Linked DNA regions of Homo sapiens: region 1 is linked to region 2. The links come from fine-mapping of genetic effects on gene expression. Tissue or cell type: whole blood. Region 2 holds a variant in brackets; the other region holds the start of a gene. All regions are shown on one strand. Distances are from middle to middle. Region 1 holds the start of TLR3 (toll like receptor 3). Region 2 overlaps FAM149A (family with sequence similarity 149 member A).

The links. PIP is the estimated chance that this variant, and not a neighbour inherited with it, causes the effect.
Region 1: it holds the start of TLR3, and the variant in region 2 is fine-mapped to the expression of TLR3 in whole blood (TOPMed, PIP above 0.99).

The regions. Positions count from the first base shown.
Region 1 is chr4:186,057,413-186,074,816 of GRCh38, forward strand. It overlaps TLR3 (toll like receptor 3), which reads left to right and starts at 11,744. Exons shown (of 5, transcript NM_003265.3): 1 at 11,744-11,836.
Region 2 is chr4:186,140,767-186,156,491 of GRCh38, forward strand. FAM149A (family with sequence similarity 149 member A) reads left to right here. Exons shown (of 14, transcript NM_001395294.1): 2 at 8,407-8,517; 3 at 8,800-8,938; 4 at 11,137-11,279; 5 at 12,879-13,004; 6 at 13,702-13,872; 7 at 15,234-15,424. Among named protein-coding and RNA genes, the nearest start is that of FLJ38576, 43 kb to the right of the region's middle. RefSeq lists enhancers at 2,986-3,486, 3,487-3,987, 7,954-9,153 and a silencer at 9,172-9,367. The variant G/C (reference allele first, on the strand shown) is at 9,362.

The DNA.
Region 1 (17,404 bases), 83 kb before region 2:
ACCTCCCGCCATCCACCTCCCACCTCCCGCCATCCACCTCCCACCTCCCGCCATCCACCCCCAGCCATCCACCCCCAGCCATCCACCTCCCGCCATCCACCCCCAGCCATCCACCCCCAGCCATCCACCTCCCGCCATCCACTCCCAGCCATCCACCCCCAGCCATCCACCTCCCGCCATCCACCTCCCGCCATCCACCCCCCGCCATCCACCCCCCGCCATCCACCCCCAGCCATCCACCTCCCGCCATCCACCTCCCGCCATCCACCTCCCACCTCCCGCCATCCACCCCCAGCCATCCACCCCCAGCCATCCACCTCCCGCCATCCACCCCCAGCCATCCACCCCCAGCCATCCACCTCCCGCCATCCACCCCCAGCCATCCACCTCCCGCCATCCACCTCCCGCCATCCACCTCCCGCCATCCACCCCCAGCCATCCACCTCCCGCCACCCACCTCCCGCCACCCACCTCCCGCCATCCACCTCCAGCCACCCACCTCCCGCCATCCACCTCCAGCCACCCACCTCCCGCCACCCACCTCCCACCACCCACCTCCCGCCATCCACCTCCCGCTATCCACCTTCAGTCATCCACCTTCAGTCATCCACCCCCAACCACCCACCTCCAGCTATCCACCTCCCGCCATCCACCTCCAGCCATCCACCTTCAGTCATTCACCTTCAGTCATCCACCTCCAGCCACCCACCTCCAGCCATCCACACCCAGATATCCACCTCCCGCCATCCACCTCCAGCTATCCACCTCCCACCATCCACCACAACCTCCTGCCCTGCGTGTTTGACCGTGACCACCACAGCTACTCCTTTCCTTTGGTTACAAATGCCATTAGTCTTTACTTGTCTCTTACTAAGTGATTAATTCATATTTTCCCCCAACATAACTGCTAGACCTGCCATCTTGACCCAAGAAATACACCAAGGTGTTACGGTCATAAAAATATAACTCATACTTTGAACATATGTTACAACTCCACCAAGATATTGTTAGAGACCCTGGGGATTTCAGGTCTGCGTTCTTGACAATTATGAATAGGGAACTTGGTTATGAGCCAGCCTTCAGGGGCTCTATATACTTTTCCCTGTTTTTCTCTTTTTGACTCTCATAATAAGTTGTTTTCTATGCTGTCTAAGACAACTTATGCCCTACTCTCTGGAAATCTCTATTATTTGGGCTACTCAAGTACCTCCCCCAACACACCCACCAAAAAAAAACTAGGCTTAAAACTGAGATCAAGGCATCAAGGAGTCAACTGTAATACAGCTTTTTAAAAATCTGTCCTGACCCAGTTGTGAGAAGCTGGTCAGAGGCTGGTCAGCTCCCCTCATCGAGGAGGTGATTAAGTCCACAACTGAACCACTTCCCTTACAGGGCTCTCACGCTGCAGGCCACTACACAGCCACCCGAATCACCTTAGGGCCAGTTACCATAGCACAAGGGACAGCCCCTATCCCCCAGAGCCCTCTGAAAGTATTCAAATAGCCAACCCACAGGAAACCCACAGAATCTAGCCAGCTCCACCCAGCTTGCCATACGCACACTGCTTCCCACATCTCCAGGTTGCCGTTAACCCGGCCTAGGCTCAATCCCCTGCGTGGCCCTGCCTGGCAGCCTTCTCTATTTGGAACTGTAAGTAACAAATAATTCTGCTTTTCACCTATCTGGGAGTCATTGTTTTTTGCCCTGTCATCAAAACAATCTTTAAATCATATAAAAGAGTTGAGTATTTGTATCATAAAAGGGTTTTTAACAGGAGCAAATGCTTTTTCTGCATCATATGAGATGATCATGTGTTTTTGTTTTTATTTATTATTATTATTATTGGTAGCATTTTTTTTGAGGCAGAGTCTTGCTCTGTTGCCCAGGCTGGAGTGCAGTGGCACGATCTCAGCTCACTGCAACCTCCACCTCCCGGGTTCAAGCAATTCTCCTGCCTCAGCCTCCCAAGTAGCTGGGACTACAGGCACCCACCAACACACCAGGCTAATTTTTGTATTTTTAGTAGAAACGGGGTTTCACCATGTTGGCCAGGCTGGTCTCAAACACCTGACCTCAGGTGATCCACCCGAGTTGGCCTCTCAAAATGCTGGGATTACAGGCGTGAGCCACCGTGCTGGGCCGATCATGTGGCTTTCTTTCTCATTCTGTCAATGTGGAATATTACCTCGATTAATCTTTGTTTGTTGAACCATCAAGGCATTCCGGGAATAAATCCCACTTGGTCATGATGTATAGTCTGTTAAATATGTTGCTAGCATTTTGTTAAAGATATTTATATCGGTATTTATAAGGGATACTGGCCTATAATTTTCTTTTCTTGTGGTGACTTTGGCTTTGGTAGTAGGGTGATGCTGGCCTCATCAAATAAGTTAGAAGTGTTCCTTTGTCTCCCATTTTTTGGAAAGGTTTGACAAAGGTTGGTGCTAATTTTTCAAACGTGTGGTAGAATTCATCAGTAAGCCATCTAGTTCAGAGATCTTGTTGTTGGAATGCTTTGGTTACTGATTCAAACTCCTTACTAGTTATAGGTCTATTCAGATTTTCTATGGCTTCATGTTTCGGTCTTGGTAGGTTGTGTGTTTCTAAGGATTTGGCCATTTCACTGACATTATCCAATTTGTTGGCATATGGTTCTTCACAGTACTCTTATAATACATTTTTAAAAAATAGAATCCGTTTTAATGCCTCTTTTTCCTTTCTGGTTAGAATTATTCTGGTTAGAATTATCTGGTTAGCTATATTATCAGCAGTTTCTTTGTGGTTATCGTGGGAATTGCATGCAACATTTTAAAGGCATACCAATTTAATTTGAATTGATACCAATTTAACTTTAATTGCACACAAGTGGACTTATAAATATCTCCACCTCCTGTGACTTTATGCTATTTATGTCCAGAGTACGTCTTTATACAACATGTACTCAACTAACATAGATTTATAATTATTTTTATGCATTTATCTTTTAAATTCTCCAGAAAAGAAAAAAGTGAAGTTACAAACCAAAATTATAATAAAACGTTTCTTTTTTAACCATGTGCCTAAGCTTACTGAAGATCTTTATGTCTTTATATGGCTTTGAATTACCATCTAGAATGATTTTATTTTAATCTAAAGGATCCCTAGTCTTTAGCATGTCTTGTAGGGCAGATCTAGTGATAATGAACTCCCTCCACTTTTCCTTATCTGGGAATGTCTTAATTTCTCCTTCATTTTTGAAAGACAGTTTTGCCAGATATAGAATTCATGATTGACAGATTTTTTTTTTTCTTTCAGCACTTTAAATATATCACCTCACTGCATTCTGGCCTCAAAGGTTTTTACTAACAAATCCACCAATAATTTTACTGAGGATCTTTTGTATGTTGTGAGTAACTTCTCTCTTGCCGCTTTCAAGATTATGTGTGTCTTAGACTTTTATTTTGATTATAATGTGTCTCAGTGTGAGTCTCTTTAGGTTCATCTTACCTAAAGTTCATTGGGCTTCTTGGATTTTTAGACTCGTGTATTTCATCACATCTGTGAAATTTGGGACCATACTTCTTCACACCACCTCCTTGCCCCGTTCTGTGTCTCTTCTTTTTCTGAAACTCCCCTAATGCCTATAGTGGCCTGCTTGCCAGTGTTTCATAAGGCCATGAGACTCTATTCCCTTTTGTTTATTCTTTTTTTTCTTTCCTGTTTTGCTCCTCAGACTCAATAATTTTAATTGTCTTGCCTTTAAATTTACTGATTCTTTCTTCTGCTTTCTGAAATCTGCAGTTGAAATCCCTCTAGTAAATTTTTCAATTCAGTTGTATTTTTCAGCTGCATAATATATATATATATATAAAAATATATATATATATATAATTTCAACTTCTCTGCTGACTTTTTTTTTTTTTTGAGACAGAGTTTTGCTCTGTCACCCAGGCTGGAGTGTAGCGGTGCGATCTCGGCTCGCTGCAACCTCTGCCTCCCAGGTTCAAGTGATTCTCCCACCTCAGCCTCCCAAGTAGCTGGGATTACAGGTGCGTGCCACTATGCCCAGCTAATTTTTGTATTTTTAGTAGAGACAGGGTTTCACCATTTTGGCCAGGCTGGTATCAAAGTCCTGACCTCAAGTGATCAGCCCACCTCGGCCTCCCAAAGTGCTGGGATTATAGGCATGGGCCACTGCTGTGGTCTCTGCTGACATTCTTATTTTGTCCGTTCATTGTAGTCCTCATTTTCTTTGGTTCTTTGTGTTTTTCTTTAGGTCTTTGAGCATATTCAAGACAGCTATTTTAAAGTCTTTGTCTAGTAGGTCCAATATACATGCTTTCTAGGGATATTATCTGGAGATTTACATTTTCCTTTGATTGGACCATGTTTTACTGCTTCTTTGTGTACCCTATGATTTTTTGTTGGCACTTAAATACTTGAATAAACAGCCACCTCTCTCAGCTTTTGCAGAGAGGCAAAAAGAGATAACCAGAAGCTGAGCTGCTGCCTCCTCTAGAACATGACCATGCTGAGCCAAGGACGGAGTGGGGCAGGGGTAACGAAAAATGCCATACAATTTCCTACATTTTTAAGGTGAATTTTTTATTAGGTATTTACGTGGTTGTTGTAGACCTTTGTTTTCCAGAGCTACTCTAAGATTTGTTCAGCAATTTTCTGGTCATTTTATGATAGTTCCATGGGGAAATGAGGAATTGAAACTTCCTAGTCTGCCATTTTGCTGATGTCAATCCTTTGAGGAAGTTTTGACTAGTTAAGACTATCACTTTGAAAAACCAAAAGCAAACAATAGATCAAGCAAAATTAGCAACACACTTAGACCAAAGCTAATTTCGGTAATGTCCATAAAACCTCTTACAAATCCATAATAAAAATATAAAAATCAAGTAAATGACATAAACAGCTAATTTAAAGAAAAAGAAATGCTACTTTTTTTTGATGACTTTAAAGTATACACTCACCTCTTAAACAGTCCTATTTCTAGATAAAGAATAAGACTAGGCATTCTATACATGCTGTAAACTATATTAGAGGTTTCTTTTTGAGTTTTGGATTTACCTATTTTATCAACAAATATTTATGATAGTAAGGCTTCCCTCTCCCCAGTTCTTTCCACTTTTACTTCCTACTTTTTAGGGACCAGCTCTCATATTCTTATTATAAGATCATCCCATGATACAGATAAAGGTTACTCTTAGGTGAAAAGCAAGAGGCATGTTCAAAAGCAACAGCATCCCTTCCAACTCTGGGCTTTCTTTTAATTTCTCCTGTTGATTTAAAATTTGCATTATAAAATGGAGGTCAATTTGCATGATCATAAACTCTCCAATAACCAATTCAATCGGATTATGGTAAGTTATGGCTTGCTTTTGATACTTCAGACTTCCTTCTGTGATCACTTAGAAGTTTTGTCAGACATTTGTGTTTCCATTTATTAGAAGCCTAGTGGATTTAATTAGGATATTTTAAATGGAGGATGATAGTGAAGTTGTATCTATAATTTTACTTTTGATTTTAATAAATAAATATTGAATTCAGGGCCTAGGGACTGAACAGCCGTGTCATAACATTGTTAATAAAGGAGAGACCCCATTCACCTAAATCCATTTCATAGATTTATAAGAAACAACAAGATGTTACCACTTTTCTATTTTTGCTTGTGTTGCGTGGGTTTTTGGTGTCATATCCAAAAAAATCACTGGCCAAGGCCAATGTCAAGAAGCTTTTTCCTCTGTGTTTCTTCTAAGAGTTTTACAGTTTCACATCTCATGTTTAGGTATTTAAACTAATTTGAGTGGATTTTTTGTGTATGGTGTAAGACAGGGTTCAATTTTATTCTTTTGCATATGGATACTGAGCTTTCCAACACCATTTACTGGAGAGACTATCCTGTCCTCTGTTGTGTGTTCTTGGCAGCCCTGTCAAAGAACTTGACCATCTATGCATGGGTTTATTTATGGGCTCTCTAGTCTGTTCCATTAGTCTGTTTTTAAGCCAGTACCATACTGTCTCGATTACTGTAGCCTTGTCACATACTTTGAAATCAGGACATTTTATGCCTTCAGCTTTGTTCTTGCTCAAGATTGCTTTGGCTATTTGGGGTCTTTTGTGGTTTCAAATACATTTTAGGAAAATTTTCTATTTCTATAAAAATGCCATTGAGATTTTGATAGAGATTATGTTTGAATGTGTAGGCCACTTTGAGTAGTATGGACATTTTAATAATATTAATTCTTCTAATCCATGAACACAGGATGTCTTTACATTTACTTGTGTCTGTTTTAATGTCTTCCATCAATGTTTTATAGTTTTCAGTGTTCAAGTCTTTCACTTCTTTAAGTTTTTTCTTAAGTATTTTATTCTTTTCAATGCTATTGCCTTCACAATAGCTAAAACATGGAAGCAACCTATATGCCCATTGATGGATGAATGGATAAAGAAAATATGGCATACACATACAATGGAATATTATTCTACCTTACAAAAGGAAGTTCTGCCATTTGTGACGACATGGATGAACCCAGAGAATGTTACGCTGAGTGAAATAAGCCAGATGCAGAAGGACAGAAGGATGCTACATGATATCATTTATATGATGAATCTGGAATAGTCAAACTCATAGAAGGAGGGAGTGACATGGTGGCTGTCAGGGGCTGGGAGGAGGCATAAACAGAGAGGTATTAGTCAAAGGGCACCAAGTCCAGCTTATACAATATGAGTAAGCCCTAGAGATCTACTGTACAGTTTAGTGCCTATAGTTAACAATGCTGTATTATATATTTAAAAATTTGCCAAAAAGGTAATTTCATGTTGTGATATATCACAAAAATAATAATAAATGAATAGAATAAAGGGAAACTTTTGGAAGTGATGGATATGTTTATGGTATGGATTGTGGTGATGGTTTCACAGAAGTATACTTGTCTTCAAGCTCATCAAGTTATATATATTAAATATTCACAGCTTTTTGTATATCGATCATACCTCGATAGAGTGGCTTAAAATGAAGGAATAAAACAGTGCATATCTCATGACATTAAAAAAAAAGTATCACTTTCAACTACCTTGTAAAATTACAAAAAATACAATAAATAAATAAAAGTTTAGGTTAGGCTGGGCGCGGTGGCTCACGCCTGTAATCCCAGCACTTTGAGAGGCCGAGGTGAGTGGATCACAAGATCAGGAGATCGAGACCACCTTGGCTAACATGGTGAAACCCCGTTTCTACTAAAAATACAAAAATTGGCCAGGTGTGGTGGCAGGGACCTGTAGTGCCAGCTACTCAGGAGGCTGAGGCAGGAATTGTTTGAACCGGGAAGGCAGAGGTTGCAGTGAGCTGAGATCGTGCCAGTGCACTCCAGCCTGAGAGACAGAGTGAGACTCCACCTCAAAAAAAAAAAAAAAAAAAAAAAAAAAGTTTAGATTAAACCAGAAGCTCTCTGTGGCAAACATTGGTTTCTTTTTCAGAGGGGAAATTCAACTTCAATACTGCTCAGTGGACATGAGCGAGAGTAGGGAGAGGGACATTTGTTATTTTCTCTCTTAAAGTTGTTGCTGGGGTCTTTGGTTGAGCCTAGTTCAAACTAGCGAAAGCTCAGTGAGCAGAAATAGAAGTGACACTGGTAAGAGGAACTGTATCTTCACTTTAGAGAAAGGATTCAGAAAGAAAAGAAATGCTTCCTAGAATTTCAGCCAATACAGATCAGAACCATGTCCTTTCTGAATGGGGGCTGTGAAGGGACCAGTTGAGTGCAGTTCACAATGACTGTCTATCTGGTGCTCTCAGGGAATTTAACCATTTGTTTAGGTTCATAATATATTCATCGCATTACATACCCATGAGAAGTTTGAATGATGAAAAGGTCTAGCCTTACTTTGGCTTCCTGCCAACCCAGAGAACATTGGTTGGTCCAATCTCCTTGTTCCTATTCTTAAAAAGTAAACTGATACTAATGGCACAATATATGTTATTTGGGTGATGAATACCCTAAAGACCCTGACTCCATCACTATGCAATCTACGCATGGAACAAAATGGCACTAGTACTCCCATAAATCTATACAAATAAAAAAGTAAACTGAGGCACAATACAGTTTTACAGTGCTTCTGAACCAGCAATGATTCATGAACCAGAAGTGGTTGGGGAGCTCCACCAAGGGAACACAAGAGAAGGCTTTTTCAGGACAGAGACAGAAGTAGAGCAAAGACAGCGCTTGACTGTTTACAGTTATACAGCTACCTTATTTGGTCTATCTCATTGGAAAGTCCTTAGTTATATAAGTTTGTTGGCTGCTTCTGATTGGTTGTGTTTACGTTTTCTTTAATATAGGCATTTACAAGATATAGTGCTCAAGTTATTATGTTTGCGTATGTCACTTATGTTTGCAGATCAAGCAAGGTCGAGGTCGCTTATGAGCCCTTGCTGGTTTGGTATGTTCATGGATTCTTCTGGCCTGGTCTCCATTTTAATGTACTTTAACACCATGAATAAAGGTTTACTTCTGAGACTCTAAGAGCCCGTTTAAATTAAACCTATGCATGATATTGCCTCAAATACCCAACAGCTCACTCATAATTGGATATTCATTGCTGGCACAAATGTTAAGTATTACTGAGCAATTAGTTCTCTCTATATTTGGCCCTCACAGAGTGTAATTATTGTATTGTTCAGTACTAATCTGCCTTTTCACATACATGCATTGAGAGGAGAGTCTTCTGTTTGCCCCACAATTTCAATTCTCTATATTTGTGGTTAGAAACTGCGGTGACACAATCCTCATGTCTAAATTCATTCATTCGGGAGATTGTAAAGATGGTTCCGTAAAGCCTCAGTATTGTAGGTGCTGATAATGATGATAATGAAAATGATAAACTTTCCCTTATAAATCTTATAATGAATTGACTAGACTGCCTACAGACTATACACTATCTTTGTCTATAGGTAAAATGGTTGTAATTGGCCGGGCGCAGTGGCTCACGCCTGTAATCACAGCACTTTGGGAGGCCAAGGTGGGTGGATCACGAGGTAAGGAGATCGAGACCATCCTGGCTAACACGGTGAAACCTCGTCTCTACCAAAAATACAAAAAATTAGCCGGGCGTCGTGGCACGTGCCTGTAGTCCCAGCTAGCTACTCTGGAGGCTGAGGCAGGAGAATTACTTGAACCCGGTAGGCGGAGCTTGCAGTGAGCTGAGATCGCGCCACTGAATTACAGCCTGGGTGACAGAGCAAGACTCTGTCTCAGGAAAAAAAAGATTAAAAAAAATAAAAACGGCTGTTTTATTAAGAATTGTTATTAGGAACGGGCAGAGAAGAACAGTGTCTGTGTAGTTCAGCATGTGAGTGGTAATTTGCTAATTATATCTGGCTTGTCACTCCGGTCTCTGTAACTTGCTGTGTTTTGTCAAGTGATTCTTCCAGAAATTTTGTGTATATTATCTTACTAAACTCTCATTAAAGAGGCCCCTCAAATGGAAGAAGGGAACTTAGAGTTTTTAGAATGTGAATAAATTTAAGGGACTTTGGCTTCTAGAATTCTGTAGATCTCTGTTTTGCTGGGAATATACAGCTTCCCATTATTCTGAGATTGGCTGATCTGTAATGCTGTGAAATATCAGTGTTTACTAAATTTGTTATTTTACATTTATGGGCATACATTTTTTTTTAATTCTCTCTCTCTCTTTTTTTGAGACAGGGTCTCCCTCTGTTACCCAGGCTGGAGTGCAGTGGCGCACTCATGACTCAATGCAAACTTGAATTTGCCTGGACTCAAGTGATCCTCCCACCTCAGCCTCCCAAGTAGCTGAGACTATAGGCATGCACCAACATGCCCAGCTAATTTTTGTAATTTTTGTAGAGATGGAGTTTTACCACGTTGCCCAGGTTGGTCTTGAACTCCTAGGCTCAAGCAATCTCCTAAAGTGTTGGGATTACAGGCATGATCCACTGCTCCCAGCCTTAATTCTTTTAAAAAGGGGAAAAATGAGGTTTTTCACTATTGCTCCAATCACCATCATAGCTAAATAAGTTAATGCACATAGTTAAGAAATGTACAGTAGAGAGAAAACAATCTGTGTTGTATTTAGAAACTAGCAAGAATTAAGGACTAATAATATCTGAATATGAACTGGTATTAAGCCCAAACTACTGCATCAGGAGACCATCAATAAAATTTATTTATCGAGAGCCATTCATTAGTCAACCAAAGTCGTGGGAAATTTAATCTGTATAAGGAGTCATAAGGCATAAGGGATAGGTATGAAGGATTGTTGAGATGATGTGTTTTATTTCGCTAATAATGCATATGACACCATTCCAATTTTTTTAAATTTAAAACAACAATCATTTATTTGCTTGCTTCTCAAGCCTGGGTAATCGTGTTTGGCAATGAGACCTTGTTGCATGCTTGCTAATATCCCACTGGTCAAAGCTAGTCAAATGGCCAAGCCTAGAGTCAGCGTGGGAGAAGGCCACACAAGGGTTTGAATTCTGAGGACGAGTCTCTTTCATTGAAGGCCAAAGAAACAGTCTACCTCAGAGGGTTGCTGGGGAGCTATAATGCAAAGAATAAACCTCACCCTGCCTTCAAGGCGCTCACAGAGAAGAAATCTTTTGAATATTAGTGAAGTTTTCCTGGACATCCCAATGGATAGATGTGAGGGACAGTCACGTACTCAGGACATCTGTTTGCTTATGGTGTTATGTTACAGATGTCACAAATGAAAATCAGAGACATGTAGCCCTGAGCCCAGTAACTATAAAGCGGTCTAGCTGAAGCTGGAGCCCACAAGAGGGCACTTTGCACCATGATGCACGCTTGTTTCTTGCCATCAGCTCTGCAATGAGTTCAAGCTAATGCCATGTCCCAGCCGTCCAGTTGTTTTATGACTTGTGTGATTGAAGCATATGGTGGCTTGTGGCATGTTCTTAGGCAAACCACTCACCTCCCTAGGTTTCGTTTTCCTAATTTCTCAAACAAGGGAGTTAGATTAGGTGGTCTATAGTTCCTTCCAATTGTGATATTTCACTATATAACAATATAGTTATAATAGATCATAGCACATCTGTAATGAAAAAAAGTGAGTTCATTTCTTAACAAGTACATTTACTTAACTAGTTGGAGTCATTAAAGCAAATTAAGAACGAAATTCTTAGTTAATCTGAACTTTTCTGGGCATACTGATCTGTTCCCTAACGCGTCTGACCGTGGAAAAGTGGATCAGCAGGAGTGGGACTGGCTCTCAGCTTTGCCATGTTTGGCTCTTTCTCTGCTGTGAAACTCAGTTTCTTCCTGGATCAAGAGGTTAATTTCTGCCGGTGTTATTTTACAGTGTTGCAAAGAGATAAAAGCCAGACGAAAGAAGGGAAAGTACTTCAGCTTTGATTAGGGATTTTTTTTTCTGTCCCTGTGACCATACACTACTCAATTCTGACAGCTTCGCATGAGTCTAGCAGAAAATTGAGGGATTCACTGTTATTCCTTAACTTGCAGAGGTCCAGACCCGCCCACATCAAATGGTGAGGTCCCCACTTTCAACTTTAGCTGTTGCTAAATCTGTGACCCTTTCAATGAAATCCAAGGATCTCAGCTTAAAAAAAGTTAAAATAAAATAAAAACTAGGTGTTTTTCAGAGGCGGTTTGAAACGCCTCTCTGAGGTTGTCAGAGATTGTTTTTGTTTTCTCCCTTTGCCCTTCTTGGAATGCACCAAACATAAAAGCATTTTTTTTCAAGCTTTACTTTCACTTTCGAGAGTGCCGTCTATTTGCCACACACTTCCCTGATGAAATGTCTGGATTTGGACTAAAGAAAAAAGGAAAGGCTAGCAGTCATCCAAGTAAGTGAAGGTGTTCATTTCACGTTCTTACTGGGCAGGGTCTCTCTTGCTGAGTAGAGTTTGCTAGCAGAATGCATGTGGTTTTAGCCTTCTTTGGTCTTTCTTTGATCTGGTGCTTGAAATCTAGTCAGAATTATTCAGGAAGGAAAGTGGAAGAAAAGGGATATGATATGGGCATGGGAGAAGGGTATAACTCAGAACACAAGTAATAGCACCAATATCTAGTTAATGTGATAATGTATTTATGCAGTATTTAATTTTTTTCTCTGTAGCATTCTGTACCTGGAAAAAACACATTAGGGAAGCTATGGAAATCATTTTGCAACAGTCTTTTTAGCAAATCACATCTTTGCCTTAAAGAAACAAAACTCCAAGAGGTTAAAAGAGCGTATCCCCTTTTGTTAGTTTTATTGGCTGGAGGGGAGACAGGAGCTGGCATTGTATGACAATGTCTTAGATAGGAGAGAACATTCAGGTATGCCTAGGAGTAAGTAAATGGCTTTCTTTCACCTAATGAAGGATAATGGAAGAAGTGGAGAAGTGGAAAGTTGTTAAGGTGTATGGGAAGATCAGAAACTGGTATCGGCAATTGTGGGGTACTCGGGTAAAAATGGAGTTGGCTTCAGCAAGTTGATTCCCAGGTTTACAGATGATTACGTGCTGGTATGTGTCTTCATATGGGCGTGCCTGTGTATGAACCTACTACAAAGGTTGCAAAGTTTACAAATCAAACTATGGATAGTGGTTAACTCCAGGTAGTCTGCCTCCAGACCCCATGTCCTAACCATCAGGCAATATTGTCTCTCACTTGGACAAAGAATGTGAATTCCATGTGCCCTCACAAAATATTTCCAAAATTCTAAGGCTGAGTGAGTCTCTTTTTAATTTTTTTTCATTTTCTTTATTTCTGCTAGATCTCATTCAACAGCAACGTTTTCTTCACTCTCATTTCATCCTTTAACTGCATTTTTGCTTGTTTTACTGAAGCATGTCCTAGAATAACCTTTTCATACAGATCGTATGGCTATAAACTTACTGAATTTTTGCATATCTCAAAATACTTATACCTTTTTATTTAGTTATTCAGATGGATGTGAAATTTCCCTATCTTATTTTATTTTATTTTATTTCATTTTATTTCATTTATCGATTTAGAGACAAGGTCTCGCTGTGTTGCCCAGGCTGAAGTACAGTGGCATGATCGTGGCTCACTGCAGCCTTGACCTCCCTGGCTCAAGCAATTCTCACACCTCAGTGTCACGAGTAGCTGGGACCACAGGTGTGAACCACTATGGCCAGCTAATTTAAAAAAAAATTTTGGTGGAGATGAGGTTTCCCTGTGTTGCCCAGGCTGGTCCCAAACTCCTAGGCTCAAGGGATCCTCCAGCCTCAGCTTCCTAAAGTGATGGGATTACAGGCATGAGCCACAGGTAATTTTCTTGGCCTGGTCAAAGGTAATTTTCTTGTTTTTTAGAGGTAAGGTCTTGCTCTGTTGCCCAGGCTGGAGTGCAGTGGTGTGATCATGATTCATTGCAGCCTTAACCTCCTGGGCTCAAGCGATCCTCCTGCCTCAGCCTCCCAAGTAGCTGGAACTACAGGCTTGTGCCACCACACTTGGCTACTTTCTAAAATATTTTTGTAGATACGGGGTCTCACTATGTTGCCCAGGCTGGTGTTGAGCTCCTGATCTCCTTCTGCCTACACCTTCTAAAGTGCCGGGATTGTGGGGATGAGCCACTATGCTTTGCCTGGATATGAAATTTTAAATTCAAAATAATTTTCTCTAAATGTTTGGAAAGCTTATCTCTATTGTTTTCCAGTGGTTCATGTTACTGATGAAAAGTTTTTTATTAATCAAGATCTCTTTTCTTTGGAAATGAAGGTTTTAGGATTTTTGTGTGCATGGTTGCAATTCTGAAATTTCATAGGAGTCTCTCCAAGTTTGTTCCTCTTTCACTCCTCCTGCCTAGCATTTGGTGAGTTTTGCCCACTGATGAAATGTCTTCAGATGGGGCAAGTCCTTAAGTCATTCAGGGATATGCTTTGTAATGGATTAGTCCTTCTCAGCAATTCTGACCTATAGCAGGAGCCCTACCAGAGGGGTACATCTCACCTAAGCAAGGAGAATGTATTGTAGGGACCTTACCTATGAGTTGGTAAATAGAGATAGGAAGTTCTGAAGGAACTGGAAGAGAGGTTTGGGACACTCTCAGAGAGGGGGCAGGTGGGGAGCTGGTCCCCAGCATTTGAGAGGTATCATTGCCAGCCCTGCATCCTTCACGTGCCTGGGCAAGTCAGCAAATGCATCCTTGCTGGCCTAGCTGTGGCATTCCTCATGGCCTGTGGATATAAAGAATGTGCACAGCTTTACAATGATTAGTGCCAGAGTTGTAAAGGCCATGAGATGGGAATATTAGTTTATGGAAGCCAGTTTTTTTTGTTGTTTTTTCTGTTTCTGAGAACTAAATTAGAATATTAGTAAAATCGCTATTTTTAAGTATATTAGAACAATTCTATATACTCACATTAGTTCTGTTTTCCTAGGATTAGTCACCTAAGGTGATTTTATTACCTGACACTTACCTGGAATAATTTTCATGTCATGACTTTTAGATCTTGTGGAATATCTATTTAGATATCATTACCACTGCTTCATCTCCATACCTTGTGGGTGTATTTGATTTTTTAAAATATCTGAAATTTGGTTGTTGATCACACCACAGAGTATCACACTGGGTACACATCCCACCAAAATAAAGTGTGACAATGTATGGAGTTGAGTGGCTTTCCTGAGCTGACTAAATGCCCATGGAAAGCTATTGTATGAGTGCATTCTCACATTGCTCTACAGAAATACCTGAGACTGGTCATTTATAAAGAAAGAGGTTCAATTGGCTGATGGTTCTGCAAGTGGTGCAGGCAGCATAGCAGCCTCTGCTTCTGGAGGAGCCTCAAGGAGCTTTCACCCACCACAGAAGGCAAAGCCAGAGCTGGCACCTTCACATAGCCGGAGCAGGAAGAAGAGAGAAGGGGAAGGTGCCACACACTTTTATTTTTTTATTATTTATTTTGGGGGGAGTGGGGGCGAAGTCTCACTTTGTCACCCAGGCTGGAGTGCATGTGGTGGGATCTCGGCTCACTGCAGCCTCCGCTTCCCTAGTTCAAGCGATTCTCCTGCCTCGGCCTTCCCAGTAGCTGGGATTACAGGCACCCACCACCACACCCAGCTAATTTTTGTATTTAGTAGAGACACGGTTACACCATGTTGGCCAGGCTGGTCTCAAACTCCTGACCTCAGGTGATCTGCCCACCTTGGCCTCCCAAGTGCTGGGGTTACAGGCGTGAGCCACTGCGCCCAACCACCACACACTTTTAAACGACCGAATCTCATAAGAATTCACTCACTCACTATCGGGAGAACAGCACCGAGGGGGTGGTGCTGAACCATCTGTGAGAACTCTGCCCCATGAGCCAGTCACCTCCCACCAGCCCCCACCTCCAACACTGGGAATTACAATTCAACGTGTGGTGTGGGTGGAGACGCAGAGGCAAACCATATCGGCTATGTATTCAACATATATTTATTTCTTCAGAGCCAACAAAGTGCCAGGTCTTGTTCTAGGCACAGACAACACCGTATGGAATAAGAACTATGTCCTCTACTATTATAGCTTCACATTCTAGTGAGAAGCAATAATTAATAATAAATAATACACAATATTGGATAATTTCCATCAACCATAGCAACGGAAAAGGCAATCTAGAAGAAGAGCAAGATGGGAGGTTTCGCTCACTGAACTTCAAGACTTGTTGTAAAGCTAAAGTAATCCGAACAATGTGGTATTGGCCTAAGAACTAACAAATATTTCAGTGGAAGAGAGTAGACAGCCCAGAAATAGACCCTCGCTTAAAACATTTACTCGGTTTCTAAGGAAAGCACAGAACAATCCGGTGGGGGAAAGAAGTCTCTTTAAAAAATGGTCTGACTGGACCAGGCGTGGTGGCTCACCCCTATAATCCCAGCACTTTGGGAGGCCGAGGTGGATGGATTACCTGAGGTCAGGAGTTCAAGACCAGCCTGGCCAACATGGTGAAACCCTGTCTCTACTACAAATATAAAAATTAGCCAGGCATGGTGGCGCGTGCCTGTAGTCCCAGCTACTCGGGAGCCTGAGGCAGGAGAATCACTTGAACCCAGGAGGTGGAGACTGCAGTGAGCCAAGATGGCACCACTGCACTCCAGCCTGGGTGACAGAGTGAGACTCCATCTCAAAAAAAAAACAAAAAACAAGATCTGACTGACTGGATATACACACAAAAAACCATGACTCCTACTTCATGCATACACAACAATTAACTTAGGAGAGGTCACACACCTTCACATAGAAGCTAACACCATAAAGCTTTTTAGAGGAGAGTATCTAAGTAATGGGAGTAGGAAAATTTCTTAGAGGAGACACAGAAATGATAAAAATAAAAGAGAAGATGATAAACTAGATTTCATCATAATTAAGAAGACATCAGTAAGAAAATAAATAGGCAACTCACACACTGGGAATAAATATTTACAAAATAGGAATCTGACGAAGGACTGACACTCAGATACATAAAAAATTCCTACAACACAATAATAAACAGGAAACAATCTAATAGATGAGCAAAATATTTGAACATATAAGGGAAGATAAATGAACAATAAGCACATGAAAATTGTTAAATATCGTTAGTCGGCAGGGAAATGCAAATGAAAACCATAATTAGCTATCACTATATGTTCAGCAGAATGATTAAAAATAATAATAAAAATAGGTACCAAATGTTGTCAGGAAAGTTGGTGGTGCAACACTTTCCCAAAGGATCTGGCAGTTTCCTGTAAAACCAAATGGCCTCACCAAATGGCCCAGGCATTCCAATCCTAGTTATTTACCCCAAAGAAATAGAACACAGTCATGTGGCACTTAATCATGGGGATATGTTCTGAGAAATGCATCGTGAGGGGACTTCATCCTTGTGGGAACGTCACAGGGAGTGCTTACACAGAACTAGGTAGTACAGCCTGTGGCGCCCAGCCTGCAAAACCAGACAGCCGGCGTGTGACTGCACTGAATACTGGAGGCAATTGTAACACAATGGGAAGTACTTGTGTATCTAAACATAGAAAAGGTAAGTGAAAATGTGGTACAAAAGGTTACAAATGGCACTTCCATAGGGCACTTACCACGAGTGGAGCTTGCAGTACTGGGAGTGGCTCTGGGTGAGTCTGTGAGTGAGAAGGGAAGTGGATGTGGAGGCCTCGGACATGACTGTGCACCACTGCAGACTTTATGAACACTGCACACTTAGGTTATACTAAACCTATTTAAAAATTTTACTTTCTTCAGTAATAATTAACTTATTATAACTGTTTTACTTTATAAGAGTTTTAATTTTTCAAAACTTTTTGACTCGTGTAATAATGCTTGGTTTAAAACAAGCACATTGTACACCTATACAAAAATATTTTCTTTGTATTCTTATTTTATAAGCTTTTTTCTATTTTTAATTTTCTTCTTTTTTTTTAACTTTTTA
Region 2 (15,725 bases):
CAATGAAAGATGGAAAATCGTATGGACTAAGTACAGGTAACATTGTATTAGGTTCTCCAGAGAAACAGAAGCAATAGGAGATACATGTCTACATCTATATTTGTATATATCTGTATAAAGAGATTTATTACAAGGATTTAGCTCATTGATTATGGAGGCTGACAAGTCACAAGGCCTTCAAGGTGAATGGCCAAGTTGGAGATCCAGGAGAGCCAGTGAAGTAGTTCTGATCCAACTTGCCAGCATCTGGTATTTTTAAGAATAGCCATTCTGACTGATGTGAGATGGTATCTCATTGTGGCTTTGATTTGCATTTCTCTAATGGTAAGTGATGTTGAACTTTGTTTTATGTGATTGTTGGCCACATGTATGTCTTCTTTTGAAAAGTGTCTGTTCATGTCCTCTGCCCACTTGTTTATGGGTTGTTTTTTTCTTGCAAATGTATTTTTAAGTTCCTTATAGATACTGGATATTAGACCTTTGTTGGATGCATGAAATATGTTATTGGTGTAAAATACACACTGGATTTCAAAACTTAGTACAAAAAAATTAAAAATATCTAATTACCAATTTTTATACAGATTACATGTTAAAATGATAATTTATATTAGATTAAAATATATCATTAAAATTAATTGTACCTGTTTCTTTTACTTTATAAATGTGGATACTAGAAAATTTAAAATTGTATGTATTTACATTATATTTCTACTGGGCAGTGGTGGTCTAAACCAATCCAACGTGAAGATTTTATCACTTTAATCTTTAAGCAAGCAGCATAGCTTTAGGTTTTGAAATTTGAGAGAAGAGACAAATGAATTAAGGAACTGTTCAGGTTTTGAACAGAAGTCATAAGAAATATAGAAGTCAAGACTTGCTGGGTTTGTGAAACTTTGACCATCACAGTCTCTCTGGGCAAAACTGAAAAATGGCCTCTGTGCAAAGATCAAATCCTAGGCAGGGGTAAAGGTGAAATCAAAGGTTTGGCTTAACAAGACGTCAGATTTAGGGGTGTCTCATAGATCCCCAAGATAATAGGGCTTTAAAAAATCATAAGAGAATTGGCCCCCGGCAGTCTCAAAGGTGGACCAAGGGCCCATCTCAGGTCAGTGTGGTTTGTAACTAATGGATGGGGTGAACTCTGATAAAATTCAAAGAAACCCACAAGGTATTGGCAGAGTGATGGAAGCGCCACTGGCTTGAACTAAAAGAGGCACAGACTTTTGGACCCCCTTCCCCAGCCTTCCCTGGAGGAAAGCAGGCTGAGAGGCTACTTAGTTGCAAACCTAGGCCATTTCTTTTCCCTGAGGAAGTCTCGGTAGAAGCAACAGCCCAGAGGACAGAGCTAAGGGCTGGGGAGAAGGCAGGAAGCAGAAGTGAGTCCTCCTCAAGGCAAGGCAGCAGGAGCCTGCTGGAACCCGCAGTGGCTGCTGCCTGGCTCCGCCACCTCTCTTGTTGGACAGGTGCCCACTGGGGATGTCCTGGCTCTGTCTCACCATTGTCGGTTGGGTGTGGAGAAGGCTGTTGCCTTGTCTCTCTAGTTCGCAGGTCTTCAGATGTAAAGGAAATACCCAAGCAGAAGCCTCATCTGTACGCGGACATGCTTTAGATGATGAGACTTCTGAGCATCTTGAAAGAGCTGAGTGTATCGTGCATGTGTAAATGACCTGTGGCCAGAGGACGGTTATGGCGGATTAAAGACGGCTGTAGGTTCTTCCCATTGAGAGCTGGGGTCTATTTTCCATCTCTTTCATTCTGGGACTGCTTTGATTATGGAGTACAGTGGAGGTGACACTGCCAGTTGCCACCTTGAATAGAGCTGACGGCTTCTGCCTCGCTTTCTTGGAGCCCTAAGCTGCCACGTAGAAATTCCAACGACTTCACTGGAGGGACCACTCAGAGAAGTGTTGAAGCTGCATGAGAGAAGGCTCAACTGAGCCCAGACTTCCAGCCACCCCCGACTGCATGGTGTAGACACATGAGTGAAGCCTTCTTAGAGCCTCCACACCAGACCACCCTCCACCTGTATGCCACTGAGCAACCCCACGGGGAGCAGAAGAAACACTCAACCTGCCGCAATTCCTGAGTTCTGTGGATTATGAGCATAACAACATGACTGTTGATTTAATCTACATTTGGGGTGGTTTGTTATGGGGTAATAGATATCTGGGACACATTCACACATATACATCCTAGCTGTGTGACCTCGAACATGTTACTTAAGGTCTCTGACATCAGTATTTTTATCAACAAAATTGTAATAATAGTGTCTACCTACTATGGGTGTTAAATATATGTAAGAATATATGTAAAATAATATATATAAAAGTAAAAGCAGCTAGCATATGTTTGGATCTTAAATGACTTTGTGTTCGATTTTTACTTTTTTTTTTTTTTTTTTTTTTTTTGAGACAAGAGTCTTGCTGTCTTGCCCAGGCTGGTCTTGAACTCCTGGGCTCTAGTGATCCTCCCATCTTGGCCTCTCAAAACACTGCGGTTACAGGTGGGAGCCATCACACCAGACTCCTTTCTTTTGTTTCCCTGGCATGCCCATCCTCCCACCCCTGGCAATATAAATAATATCAGCAAGTCTGTGTGGGCTTAAGATACCATAGTTTTCCTGATAGATATGTATACACATACACACACATCACACATATACACATATACATGTATCAGGATTTAAAATCTCATTAATTTTATAATTTATAACCACTTACCACTTTTATAAAAGTGGGGAGGATTCCAGTGTTCTTAGTTCAACAATGGATTACTGTTTTGTTTGTGTTTGTTTTTTTGAGACAGAGTCTCCCTCTGTCGCCCAGCCTGGAGTGGGTGGGGCGATCTCCGCCTCCCAGGTTGAAGTGATTCTCATGCCTCAGCCTCCTGAGTAGCTGGAATTACAGGCACGCACCACCACACCCAGCTAATTTTTGTATTTTTAGTAGAGACTGGGGTTTCACCATGTTGGCCAGGCTGGTCTTGAACTCCTGATCTCAAGTGATCCGCCCACCTCAGCCTTCCAAAGTGCTGGGATTACAGGCGTGAGCCACCCTGGCTGGACTACTGTTTTTGTTATTGGTAGTGATTTCTTGTCACCGTGCTAGGGTGGTGCATCAGAAATAAACTGGGCTTTTTAGTAAAAACTCGGAAATACATGGTTTACCTCTGTAAATACGGGATACTTGGCAGGAGAAATTGTACCTGTTGAAACTTAGATGGCCTCAGCTCTCAAAAGAGACTGGCTACGGCAGGACGGGGATGAGTGTTGTACCGGCACCCAGTGCACTAACTGTCATTACTAAAATCCCTGTCGTGGGAAAGGCATGCCTCGTGCAGTGCCCACCCTCTGAGACTCAAAAATGTAGTTCACCTCCGCGACCTCACCCCTTCTTCCCTTAGCATGTGAAAATGACGGCTTGGCAGTTTCACCAGCTCACAGGAGAGCGTCCAGCTGCTCTGCTCCTGGTATAATCCTGGGCCTCCAAAACTGAAACGAGCACATGGTAACGCAAGCGGCAGGCATGCTCGGGGTGTGCAGGAGATGCACCGGCTTGTGTGAGCCGGTAGGGCAGGACGGGCGTGGAAGGGTCCACGTCTTTAGTATGCATGCTTAGATCTAGCGTTCCTGTTGATGGAGTAATGGTTCTCGCATTGACCAGATCCGGGGCTTCATTTTTTAAACCTCATTCGTCCACTCCCCACCCCAGCCTGGTGTGCGCACCCTTTGATGGGGCGGGGATAGGCGAGATGGTCCTGTGGTTCTCTGCCTTCTTCTGGTGAATTAAAATCCGATTTGGAAGAGAGAAGGGCAGCCAGCACCAGTATGCACAGCCCCCGGCCCCAGAGACCCGGGAAGGAGTAGGGAGGCCGGGCCGTGCGCGGAGGAGTGGCCGCTGGGTTGGAAACCCGGCCCGGCAGGGAGCGGGGAAGGCGCGCTTTCCCGGAGGTCGGCGCGGGGCCGGGGCCGGGGCCGGGGCCCGGAGCGGGGATGGGCGGGCGCAGCCGGGATTAGCTGGCGGGCGAGGGCGCAGCGCAGGGAGGAGGAGGGGAGGCGGCGCCGGCGCGGGCGGGGCGGAGGATCTGGAGAGGGAAGGGGCGTGCGAGCCCCGCGGACCCCGGGCGCGCCCGGGCCGCCTGAGCTGGGCCAGCCGCGCGGCGGGCGCGGGCGCGGGCGCGGGCGCGGGCGCGGGCGGGTGGGGAGCCCCAGCCCCGGGGCCGCGGGGGCGCGTGACCGGCTGTCTGCGTGGGGCCCGCGCGCGGTGCCTCTGCCTGACGGTGCCCGAGCCTAGCGCGGAGCCTGGCGCGGGGGCTGCGAGCACAGGCCCGGGGCTGATCGTAATCGGGTGAGTCTCATCCGGCAGCAGGGCTCGCCTTCTGGCCGCTCTGCAGGCGATGTGCGCGGTGTTCTCCGCCCGCGGGCCGGCTGCGTCTGGCCCGGGCTTCCCTGCAGGCACTCGGGAAGCGTCAGGCCGGCCCCGGGCATGGCTCACGCGGGGAAGCGTTCGCCGCCAAAGGGACTCCTTCGTCACTGCGGTCGCTCCTGGGACTTGCTGGTGTTGGGTCAGGGCGGTGTGAGTGTTCCGTGCTGAGGAGCGGCTTCCCATGGCCACCCTGGAGTGCCCCTGTGTGTCCCCCCATCCAGAAAACCAGCCTGCATTTTAACCCGTTCAGAGTACAGTGCTTATGTCAGACAGTCCTGTCAACTAGGAATAGAAAATTTTGAAAGCTGCTGTCACTGACATTAGAATTTCTACAAAGCAGTGTGGCAGAGGTTTGTGGGCTGTCAAGAAGCAACCTAAAACAGTAACTCTGGATGATGATTTTCCTGACAGCTGGAATGGAGTCATGGAGATTGGAACTCACCCTTAACCTCCATGCGCCAACAAATGAGTGCAGTCTAGTTTAGTGACTGCACTTCAGTCCACCCTACGAAGACCTGTCCCCAAATCAACAGCCTTGCTCTATTTAAACAGTATGGACAGGAACTAGTATAGAACTTGCATGTCTATGTTTAGAAGCTTCATGGACATGCCACCATATTCAAGTTTTAAAATACCTGTGGGATGCATCCTGTAAGTTGTGTACACTTTCTTAGACTGTGTAGGATACAGAACTAGTCCATAGTTTATAGGGGATTAAAGAGGTTCAACATTATGCATGAGGGACCAGTAACCAATCCTTGGTTAGAGAACAGAGAAACCAAAGAACCAAAACAAGATGTGAAAGAGAAAAAAAAAAAGAAAAAGACAAGAAAGGGATTTTGTAGGCTCTGCTGTTAATTCATGATGTTAGTAACTTGTGCCACTGGAGAGACAGGCAGGTCAGTGGCCTGGTTCCTCGAAGAAACTCTGTCCCTATCTTCTTTGTGCTCTTGGGCAATCATTGAGTTACGGACTTAAATTCCTGTTCACCTCGTTTTTTTGTGAATTGTGTGGTCAAGTTTGTATGTTATTACACTGAACTCTGAAGCTCAAGAAATTGCTTAAAAGGAGATACAGAGGGGAAGGTCAGAGAGGAAAAAAGAGGGAGAAATGGCATGGAGTAGGGGAGTTTTAAGGCACCTAATTCGTAATAATTGGTGTGACTGTTACCCAACTTCCCATTTCCCCCTGCCCTGCATCCCAAGACCTCCTGGGCTCAGCTCTGCGTCCAAGACAGTGGGAAGCCTGGTCCTGGAAAGGATGTGGTGTGATGTGAAGAGAGATGAGTTCCTCCGTTTTGTAAATAATTTTCTCCTTAATTTGAAAAGAGCTTCCACCCTTTCCCCTGAAAAAGAGTGAATTTCCTAGAGGAATAAATTATTCATTGAAACAAACTCGCATGCGTCCCATTTTGAATTTGGCTTCAAAGTTGCACAAAAGCAGGAGGAGGAGCTAGAAGCAGGATAGACCGTCTTGAGCAGAGCAGATGCTCCGTTTGGCGGTGAAAACCATTTGGGGGAATATCAGCTGCCCAAAGAAGAGCTGTGACTTTTTAACGAGTAAAACGTTATCCAATAGTGTCTTGAATCTGGGGAATATTTTCATGTCAGGTCACGATGTAATCCTATGTTTCAGGCATAAACATTCAGAGTAATTCTGTAGTGAAAATGAGTTCCGCATTTGAGTTGCTAATTTCGTCTTCGCCGTTTGAGTCTTTCAACCGAGGGCATCTTTTGTGTGACGAGTGTTATTTCAGGTGCTTAGCTTAAAAGATGAATAAGGTGTCAAGGTCACAACAAAAAGTTAAAATGTGAAAAGATCTATATAATACAAAATGCTATGGGAGGTCCAAAGAAACAAGAACACAGCATCTTCGTAGAGTAGCAGGTGATGATGATAATAGCAGTGAGAGGACAGTGCGGTGGCTCATGCCTATAGTCCCAGCAGTTTTGGAGGCCAAGGCAGGAGGATCACTTGAGCCCAAGAGTTCAAGACCAGCTTGGGCAATATAGTGAGACCCCATCTCTACAAAACATTAAAAAGTTAGCCAAGCATGGTGGTAGACACCTGTAGTCCCAGCTACTAGAGAGGCTGAAGGTGGGAGGATAACTTGAGGCCTGGAGGTCGAGCTTACAGTGAGCTGTGATCCTGCCACTGCACTCTAGCCTGTGGAGCAAAGCAAGACCCTGTGTCAAGTAATAATAATAACATAACAATAATAATAGCAGTGAGCAGGTAAACCCGATTTATGTAGCACTGACTGACACTTCATATACTTTATCTACAGATGTGGACACTGAATTCAGGAGAGGAAAAGTTAACTTGCTTAAAGCCTCAGTGGCAGAGCAAATTTGAACCCCCCATTATTATTCTGTAGATATGTATCACAAAAGAACAATGTTTTAGCTAATTCATCATGCTGAGTTTTAAAATTATTTCTCAGTCATATATTAACTCCTATACCAGTATGTTTTTCTTAGTGTTCAAAACAAATCTATTTGATGTAACTTTTAGTTGTTATTTTATGTCATTAGTATTTGTATGTTTACCTAAAAAGTTACTGAGTCACATGTAAACAAGAAATAATTAATGGCTTGAAAGCAACTGAAGAGGGCTAAAGGTAAAGCAGTTTGTCAGCATAAAGCGTGTCCTTTATTCTTTTCTCTGGGGCCCTTTCTTTAACATCTTTATCCTCAGAGTTACCTGGTTGTCCGTAAGATACCTAAGCAACAAAGAGAATAAAAACAATCATATAATTCTATTATTCTCTCTTGCATGAGACGTATCTATGGAAGGTAGATGTTCTCGCCAATCTGTACATGGTAATTACTTTGTTTTAAAAATTCTCTTTGTTGGCTGGGTGTGGTGGCTCATGCCTGTAATCCCAGCACTTTGGGAGGCCGAAGCGGGTAGATCACTTGAGGTTAGGAGTTCGAGACCAGCCTGGCTAACATGGTGAAACCCTGTCTCTACTAAAAATACAAAAATTAGCTGGGCGTGGTGGCAGGCGCCTGTAATCCCAGCTACTCAGGAGGCTGAGGCAGGAGAATTACTTGAACCTAGGAGGTGGAGGTTGCAGTGAGCTGAGATCAATTAGGTAGCCTTATAATCGAAAGCAAAAGCAAACTTTTTAAAAATGCATTTTAGAGTGGTGTTCTAACTAGAAATATTGAAAGTTGAAGTTTTTCCTGATTCATGACCATATCTTATGTTAATATATGTTTTATTTGTAAGGGAAAATAAGATTTCTATTGAAGAACAGAAGTTGTTGATTATTAAACATCAGGAAGATATTTTGACTAGAGGAAGTAAATGTTTTAAGCGGTTCATTGAAAGGACATTTCAATGATTAACAGGAACTGTGCTACACCAGTTAGGCTTAATAGTTTATTTAACATCTAGATATTTCTTCTGTTTTAGTTCTTCATTAAATTTTAATATCTTCTAACTCTTGAAAACTCAGTATACCCACAAACAGCAATGCTAGATTAAAGCAAGTTAGGTGTCTGTGTGGCTTCTGAGTCTAAAGAATTTGATGTTTCTTAATTAATATGGGATTAATGATTTTTTTACTGGAGGAGTGGTTGGGTTTTGTAAGTAAGTCCCTTGTCCCTGGTCAAGGGACAACTGGGACCTGAAATCCCTGAAATACTGTGAACTGTTTGGGGCAACTTTTCCTTCTCTGGCTGAGTCACAAAAAGTTGATGTTGTCTTCAGTTCACATAAAGGTACATATAGGTTAATGGCAACCTTGATTTTAAGAAAAAGAAAAATGATGACATCCTAAGTCTCAGTTTCATCAGGATGGGGTGTGTGTGTGTGTGTGTGTGTGTGTGTGTGTGCGCTCATGCACAGGTGGGTTTGGAGGGATGTGGCAGAACGAGAGGAGCAACTTTGTATAAAAGAGAAATTTTAAAAGTCTTAATGAATAAAACTATATTATTACATTAGGGAGACTCGTCATGTTTTATTTTATTTCCAGAAGAGGACTGTCAGAAGGACGTAGAAGGCACGGTTTTACTGTGAGGAGCAAAGATTCTTTACCTACGCATTTTACAAGAAATGTGCAGAAAGCCATTGATAAATATACCTGGTAAGAATTCACCTTGCTTCAGATTACAAAATCACAAAATGCCCGTAACAAATGTGGGAAGGAAGTTAGTGACTGGCCATGAATTTCTAAAAGTAAGATGCAGTTTTATTTTTAACCTAGTGTAAACATCACACTGTAAAAATATTTCAAAATTAGTATACTGTGAAATTAATAAATATATTTAATGAAAGAAAGAGGAAGCAGGCTCAGAAAAGTGAAGCCACTTAGCCATCCAAGCCCTTCCAGCAAATGTGATTTCTTTGCTCATGTTCATTCCTGCAGCAAATCCTTGTCATCCTTTTCCTCCAGCGGAAGCCATACACCCACGGGAGCCCACACCTCTTGGTCTGGGTCGGCCACACAGAGCTCTACCACCGGCTCATCCACGGAGAGGGGCTCCGTTTATTCCTGGAGAGATGACGTATGTCTCAGAATATTTTGGATAATCTTGTAATTACAGTTTATAGTGAAGAGTTGCTTCCTTATATTCAAAATTATTTTTACCAATTATAAAAGCATGACCTATTGCATACATACATGTACATACATGTAAAAGCATGTACATGTTACATGTGAAAATAATAGATCACGAACCGTGGAGGAAAACAGAACTCCCTCGTGACCTTCTGGCCCCGTCTTAGCTGCCCGCAGTTTTCTTGTTTCCACCCTGCAGCCGGCTCTCCGGGTGTGTGCTCCTTGTGACTTCTTGGATGGTATCCATGGCCGGAAATTCAGGACTTGAATAAGAAAGAAATGCTGGAAAAGTAAAAGCTGTGGCAGCCACTGTGATTAGAGAACTCCCCGCCAGTATTCCCAGTCGGATATTTCACCTTCACCCCCTACC[G/C]CTGGGGGCGCTGTTGCCTCTGAACTGCTTTTGTCTGTGTGAGCCTGGGATTCTGGCTGGGCGAGCTCTGCCTCCACTGCTCCAGCTTGCTCAGGAGCTCACTGGCTCCAGTCTCCTCCCTCCCCCTCCCTCCAAGGGTCTCCGTGGATCCCAGGACACAGCCCTCCTTTTTAAGGCCCACCTGGCTGCAGCACCTTGGGTGTTCTGTTTTACCTCGTTTATGCTGGGTGTTTTGTTGTTGTTGTTGTTGTTTTTTGCTTGCTTGCTTTCTCTCTCTCTCTGTCTCTTTTTTTTTTTTTTTTTTTTTTTTGAGACGGAGTCTCGCTCTGTCGCCCAGGCTGGAGTGCAGGGGCGCGATCTCGGCTCACTGCAAGCTCCGCCTCCCGGGTTCACGCCATTCTCCTGCCTCAGCCTCCCGAGTAGCTGGGACCACAGGCGCCCACCACCACGCCCGGCTAATTTTTTGTATTTTTAATAGAGACGGGGTTTCACCGTGTTAGCCAGGATGGTCTCGATCTCCTGACCTCGTGATCCGCCCGTCTCGGCCTCCCAAAGTGCTGGGATTACAGGCGTGAGCCACCGCGTCCGGCCTTTTCTCTCTTTTTTTTTTTTAAGACAGAGTCTTGCTCTGTCACTCAAGCTGAGGTGCAGTGGTGCCATGTCGGCTCACTGCAACCTCCGCCTACCAGGTTCAAGCAATACTCCTGTCTCAGCCTCCCGAGTAGCTGGGATTACAAGTGTGCACCGCCATGCCCAGTTAATTTTTGTATTTTTAGTAGAGACGGTGTTTCACCATGTTGGCCAGGCTGGTTTCGAACTCCTGACGTTGTGATCCGCCTGCCTGGGCCTCCCATGGCATGAGCCACTGCGCCCAGCCTCTTTGCTTTCTTTAAAAGTGGTTCCCCACTCCCACTGCACATGGGAATCCGCTTCTGTCCGCAGCTGTGCAGCTGTGATTCTCAGGGGAGCCGGCAGGGCAGGTGCACCGAGGGGGTCTGAAAGGGACTCAGCTCAGCACTGCTAGGAGGACCTTTCACGCACGCAGCTCCCTTACTTAGGGGCAGCTGCCTCCTTCCTCTCCCTTACGCCCACTCACCACCATCCCTCAAGCCCGCCTTCCTTGGTAGAAGGCTGAGCACCACTGCTTTACTCTGTCCAAATTCTAGGATTCTTTTAGTACAACGTTTAATGGAATTACCAGGGAAATTCGTATAACTTCCATTAATACTCAGGCCTCACCCTAATAACCACACTTCTTAGGATAACTAAGGATTTTTTTTTCCAGTTCATTGATTTAAGGAGATTAATGGCCTTTTCTACAAAAGTAATTTTCTTTTCTGTGGTATCACCAGAAGAAAAAAAAATCTTGTATTTTGCAGGTGTGCTTAGGTGTGTCAGGCACAGCTCTGTGAGGAGCTGCCTGTGTTTGCAGACATACAGATGTGGACGTGTCTGTGTGTCTACGCTGATGTCTGTGGCAGTATGAACACGTCCATCTATACCTCTATCTATGCAAATTCTTGAGTCTCATAACTTCCGTGGCAGAAGTTTTCTCTATTTAACAGTAAAAGAATCCGAGGCTCAGAATGAGATGGCATTTCTCAGAAAGGTAACAGCTAGAGCACAGGTGTGTCTGACTGCAAAGCCACCATCTTTTTACCAAGTGATGCACCCTCCTACATAGTGGGTGACAGTAAATGTATAAGTAGCGTTGATCCAGAAGCCCGCAGTTCTGTAACTTGCAGTGTTGTAACCAAGTGTGCATTTCTGTTTAGGAATTTGACGAAGCCAGTTCACAGTCAGTGCAGCGGTTACTCTGGGAGGTGGAGGAAATGTTATTTGAAGGGAAAGTGAACCCTCAGACCCAGAGTCTGCTGGCCGAATGCGGGGAGTGGACAAGAAGATCCCTCCATTTGAGGTGGGACCTTGGTGGTGGAAGTTCTCTGGGGTGGGTTTTCCAAGCACCCACCCCTGACCTGCCTCGATACATTCAGTACATTTGGTGTGAAAGTGCCTGCCCAGTCAGAATATGGATGCAGAGCGCAGTCCTTCACTGAGAGATCACTTTCCTCTTACGGCGTCTGAGGAAATACTGAGACATTCCAGTACTCAAGCGCCTTTTAATTTGTGAGAAGCAAATTCAGGCCATCCTGAGAAGGGCATGACACATATACGAATGCAAGAATGGTGGAGGCCACCTCTTACCTTCACATTCACTGTGTGTGAGCAGCACATGTCTGTCTTCATCACAGAACACAGCGAGGGTGGGCAGAGATGATTTGCTGAACGGCTGGATAGATGGGTCTTCCCATCTCACCCATTCCTTATGTAGGGAGGAGCATGTGTTACTTTTCATATCAAAGATGGAGAATATGGATTGGGTATGAAGGCAAGCTTTTCTTTTCTTTTTGCTTTTTTTTTTTTTTTTTTTTTTTGAGATGGAGTCTTGCTCTGTCGCCCAGGCTGGAGTGCAGTGGCGCGATCTCAGCTCACTGCAATCTCAGCCTCCTTGGTTCACGCCATCCTCCTGCCTCAGCCTCCCGAGTAGCTGGGACTACAGGCACCTGCCACCACGCCCGGCTAATTTTTTTTATTTTTAGTAGAGACGGGGTTTCACCGTGTTAGCCAGGATGGTCTTGATCTCCTGAACTCGTGATCCGCCCGCCTCAGCCTCCCAAAGTGCTGGGATTACAGGCATGAGCCACCGCGCCCGGCCAAAGGCAAGCTTATCTTTCAGTCACTCAGCCAACGTACTGGGGGACAGTTTATCAAAGTTACCTGAGTTCCTGTGGATTCTGTCTGGGGAGAATGAATCAGAACACTCATGTAAATGTGGCTGGATTTCCTGGTTACATTCACTAGGTAACTTTTACAGAAATCTTGACCAACTAGGGTTGTTTTTTTTTTTCTTTTCAACCCTTAATAAGCCACCTGCCCTAAAGAGTATGATATGTCCACTAGATACTAGTTGTGGATACTCACTTTTCTGGGGATGATCACTCACCAGAAATTCGGGAGCTCACACTTATTCTTGTCACTGCTGTCTTACATCATTGATAGAAATGGAGGGAAGGTGGGAAAAGATTGTCAGGTACATAAGCCAAGTGTGCATATTTATATATTTGTATTCTTGTTATGTTTGTGTTTAACTGTGTATTAGTTAATATGTATGGAGGGCTTCTTTGTGCCCAGTGTTGCCTTAGACACCTGAGTCTGTCATATATGATCTCTAAGCCATTCATCAGCCCTGCAAGGTAACCATTATTATCCTGTTTTGCAAATGAAAGACAAACAAATGAAATTAGCCTGAGAACCTTGCCTGAGACTGAGTCAGTGGAAGAACAGTCTGGCCTAAACTCTCAAAGTCACACTTCTGTGATGCGTGATGCTTCCCACGTTCCCATACACATCTTATCATACACATGCCTTCAAAATCATTGTCTCCTACTTTTAAAATCTCCAAACATTTTCCCTTTGTCTGATCAAAAATGTCAGTAGCTTCTCTTTGACCTCGCAGAGTATTAGGAAGACAGCTGATCCTGCCCACTGACAAAGGCGTCCAGCATTTCCAGGGCAGCACTCCTGCCTCCGCAGTCCACAGACCCCCGCTCAGTGCCTGCGGACACAGCAGCAACATCAGAGAGTATGTTCAGATAAGTGACTCTCAAAAAGTATTGTTAGCTGTATTTTAGTTATACTTTTTCATGTTTATCTCATCTATAAGCCTTGGCTCCACCCATTTTGGAAATTTAGATTCTGATGAAGGGCAGGTACAGAGAACAATTTTTATAAGAAGCTTTTGATTCTGAATTGATGATAGGTGTATATGTGTGTATATAGAGAGATGTGTAATATATATATGGAACACACATGCACACACATGGTAGTTACCTTCCATGTTTGTTCCAAAGGCGCTGTGAAAGGTGGACTGGGTGCAGGATGGAAACCGCCTCACTGTGATGGATTATAAGCCTCCAGGCGGTGGCAGCAGGAGAAATGAAGCTCTGTCCTGTCGTTTCTGTTCACTAGCAGATTTTGATGACTCTATGCCATTCACACATATTTGGTGTGCCGTGACACAATGCAGTCCTTTCACTGCAACCAAAGAGGGTACAAACTCATAGAATAATTTAGGCTTTTAAGAAGCCCTTAAAATGTTTAATGATGCCTGTATTAAAGTGTTTTTAAGGACGTGAGTTTTGTCCAATGTAATATTCAACCGTTTTGGGAGGGGGGGATTCTGTACTTTACAGATAATTGAAAGATCCGCCATGATCGTTTAAGCATTGCGTTCTTGGTGTTCTATAAACTCCCATGTAGAATCTGTTTTTTTCCCATAGGTTGTGCATTTCTGGCTCTCAAATAGTCCCAGCAGCACTCTCAGCCTCTGCCCTGCCAGGCCCTGATGACACAGGGGTTGCTGACCTAACGGCACGTTCATCCCTGGAAGAAGAGGTTTACCATGTGGATGGAAAGATTGAGGAGTATTTCGCTTTTGACAGAAAAGAGGAGTAAATAGAATCTTATTTGACATTGACCTCATAAAATAATATTAATTTATTTGACATTTATTGTTATCGTATGCTCATTAAGTGTTTTGTGTATTTTTTACTCACCCAAAAGATTTCTGTTCTTTTGAGAGTAATGTACTCCCCAGAGCTTTTGGATTCCTAGCCAGCGGTGCACGTGCGGGAGCAGCGAAGAGGGTGTTCAGTGCCCTTGTAAAAGCAGACAAGGCTCCTCGCAGCCCTGGTCCTGGGGGCTCCAGGTTCCCCAGCCCTGGCTGCCCAAAAGGGCCTAAGGGGAGTTCCTGCCTCTGTACTAAATTCGTATTTTGTTCTTTTTTTTTTTTTGAGACGGAGTCTCGCTCTGTCGCCCAGGCTAGAGTGCAGCCGTGCGAGCTCGGCTGACTGCAAACTCCGCCTCCCGGGTTCACGCCATTCTCCTCCCTCAGCCTCCCGAGTAGCTGGAACTGCAGGCGCCCACCACCACGCCCGGATAATTTTTTGAATTTTTTTTTAGTAGAGACGGGGTTTCACCGTGTTAGCCAGGATGGTGTCGATCTCCTGACCTCGTGATCCTTCTGCCTCGGCCTCCCAAAGTGCTGGGATTACAGGCGTGAGCCACTGTGCCCAGCCTTGTATTTTGTTCTTAATCAAAAACTACAACTATTACATGATAAAACTTTGCCCCGTGATTGAAAATTGGCACATTAAAAAGTAACACTGATAAAACAAGTCTTAACACATTTGAGAAGACTGAAATCAAGCATCTTTTCTGATCTCAGTGGTACAAAACTGAAAGTCAATAACAGGAAGAAAACTAGAAAACTCACAAATATGTGTAAACTAAACAACCTGCTCCTCAACAACCAGGCAGTAGGTCAAAGAAGAAACCTAAAGGGAAATCAAAAAATATAATGAGACAAATTAAAATGGAAACACAACATATTAAAACCAAACTTATGGGGTACAGTAGAAGCAGCTCTAAAAGGGAAGCCTATGGCAATAAATGCCTACATTGAGAAAAAAGACATATCTGAAATAAACAACCTAACTTTATACTTGAAGGAATGAGAAAAAGAACAAACTAAGCCCAAACTTAGTAGAAGGAAGGAAATAACAAAGCTCAGAGCCGAAATAAATGAAGAGACTAGAAAAAAAAAGAAAGATCAATGAAACCAGGAGTTGGTTTCTTGTTTTTATTCATGTGTAATGGAAAAAAATTATATATGTTAAAAAAGAACGATGCTGTTTAACAAAGAATGTTTATTAATATATGTATACATGTACATACGTGAATGTGTGTAGATAGAATTATTTTAACTCTAAGCATTGATCTTTTAGTAATTGGAGTGGGTTTTTATTCTTAGTGATGATGAATGTCTTGAACAAAAACCAGCTCAGCCCGGTAGGAAATGGCGCAAACTCGGACTTCCTCCTGTTTCCCCGCGTGACTGTGTCAAAGATGCCGTGGCAGCAGAAGTGTTTGATCACGTCTGGACAAATATGGTAGAACTTTTGGAAGAGCTGATTAGAAAACACTGGGAAACTACACTCACAGGTACTTACATGCAGAATTTAGCTTAATGAAAAGAAAAAGTCCCTGTTCTTCGGCCCTGGGCTCCTGCTCCCCAGCTTGGCCAGACCTAGAACGTGACCAGTGAGAAGACAAGTGGGTGTTCTGACTTTACTCATGAGTGCTCTTTAGTCCCTTCAAAAAGGACGCTATTGTTTTTTGTGTTATAAAAAATAATGCAGGGCTGGCTGGGTGCGGTGGCTCACGCCTGTAATCCCAGCACTTTGGGAGGCCGAGGCAGGTAGATCACCTGAGGTCAGGAGTTCAAGACCAGCCTGGCCAACAT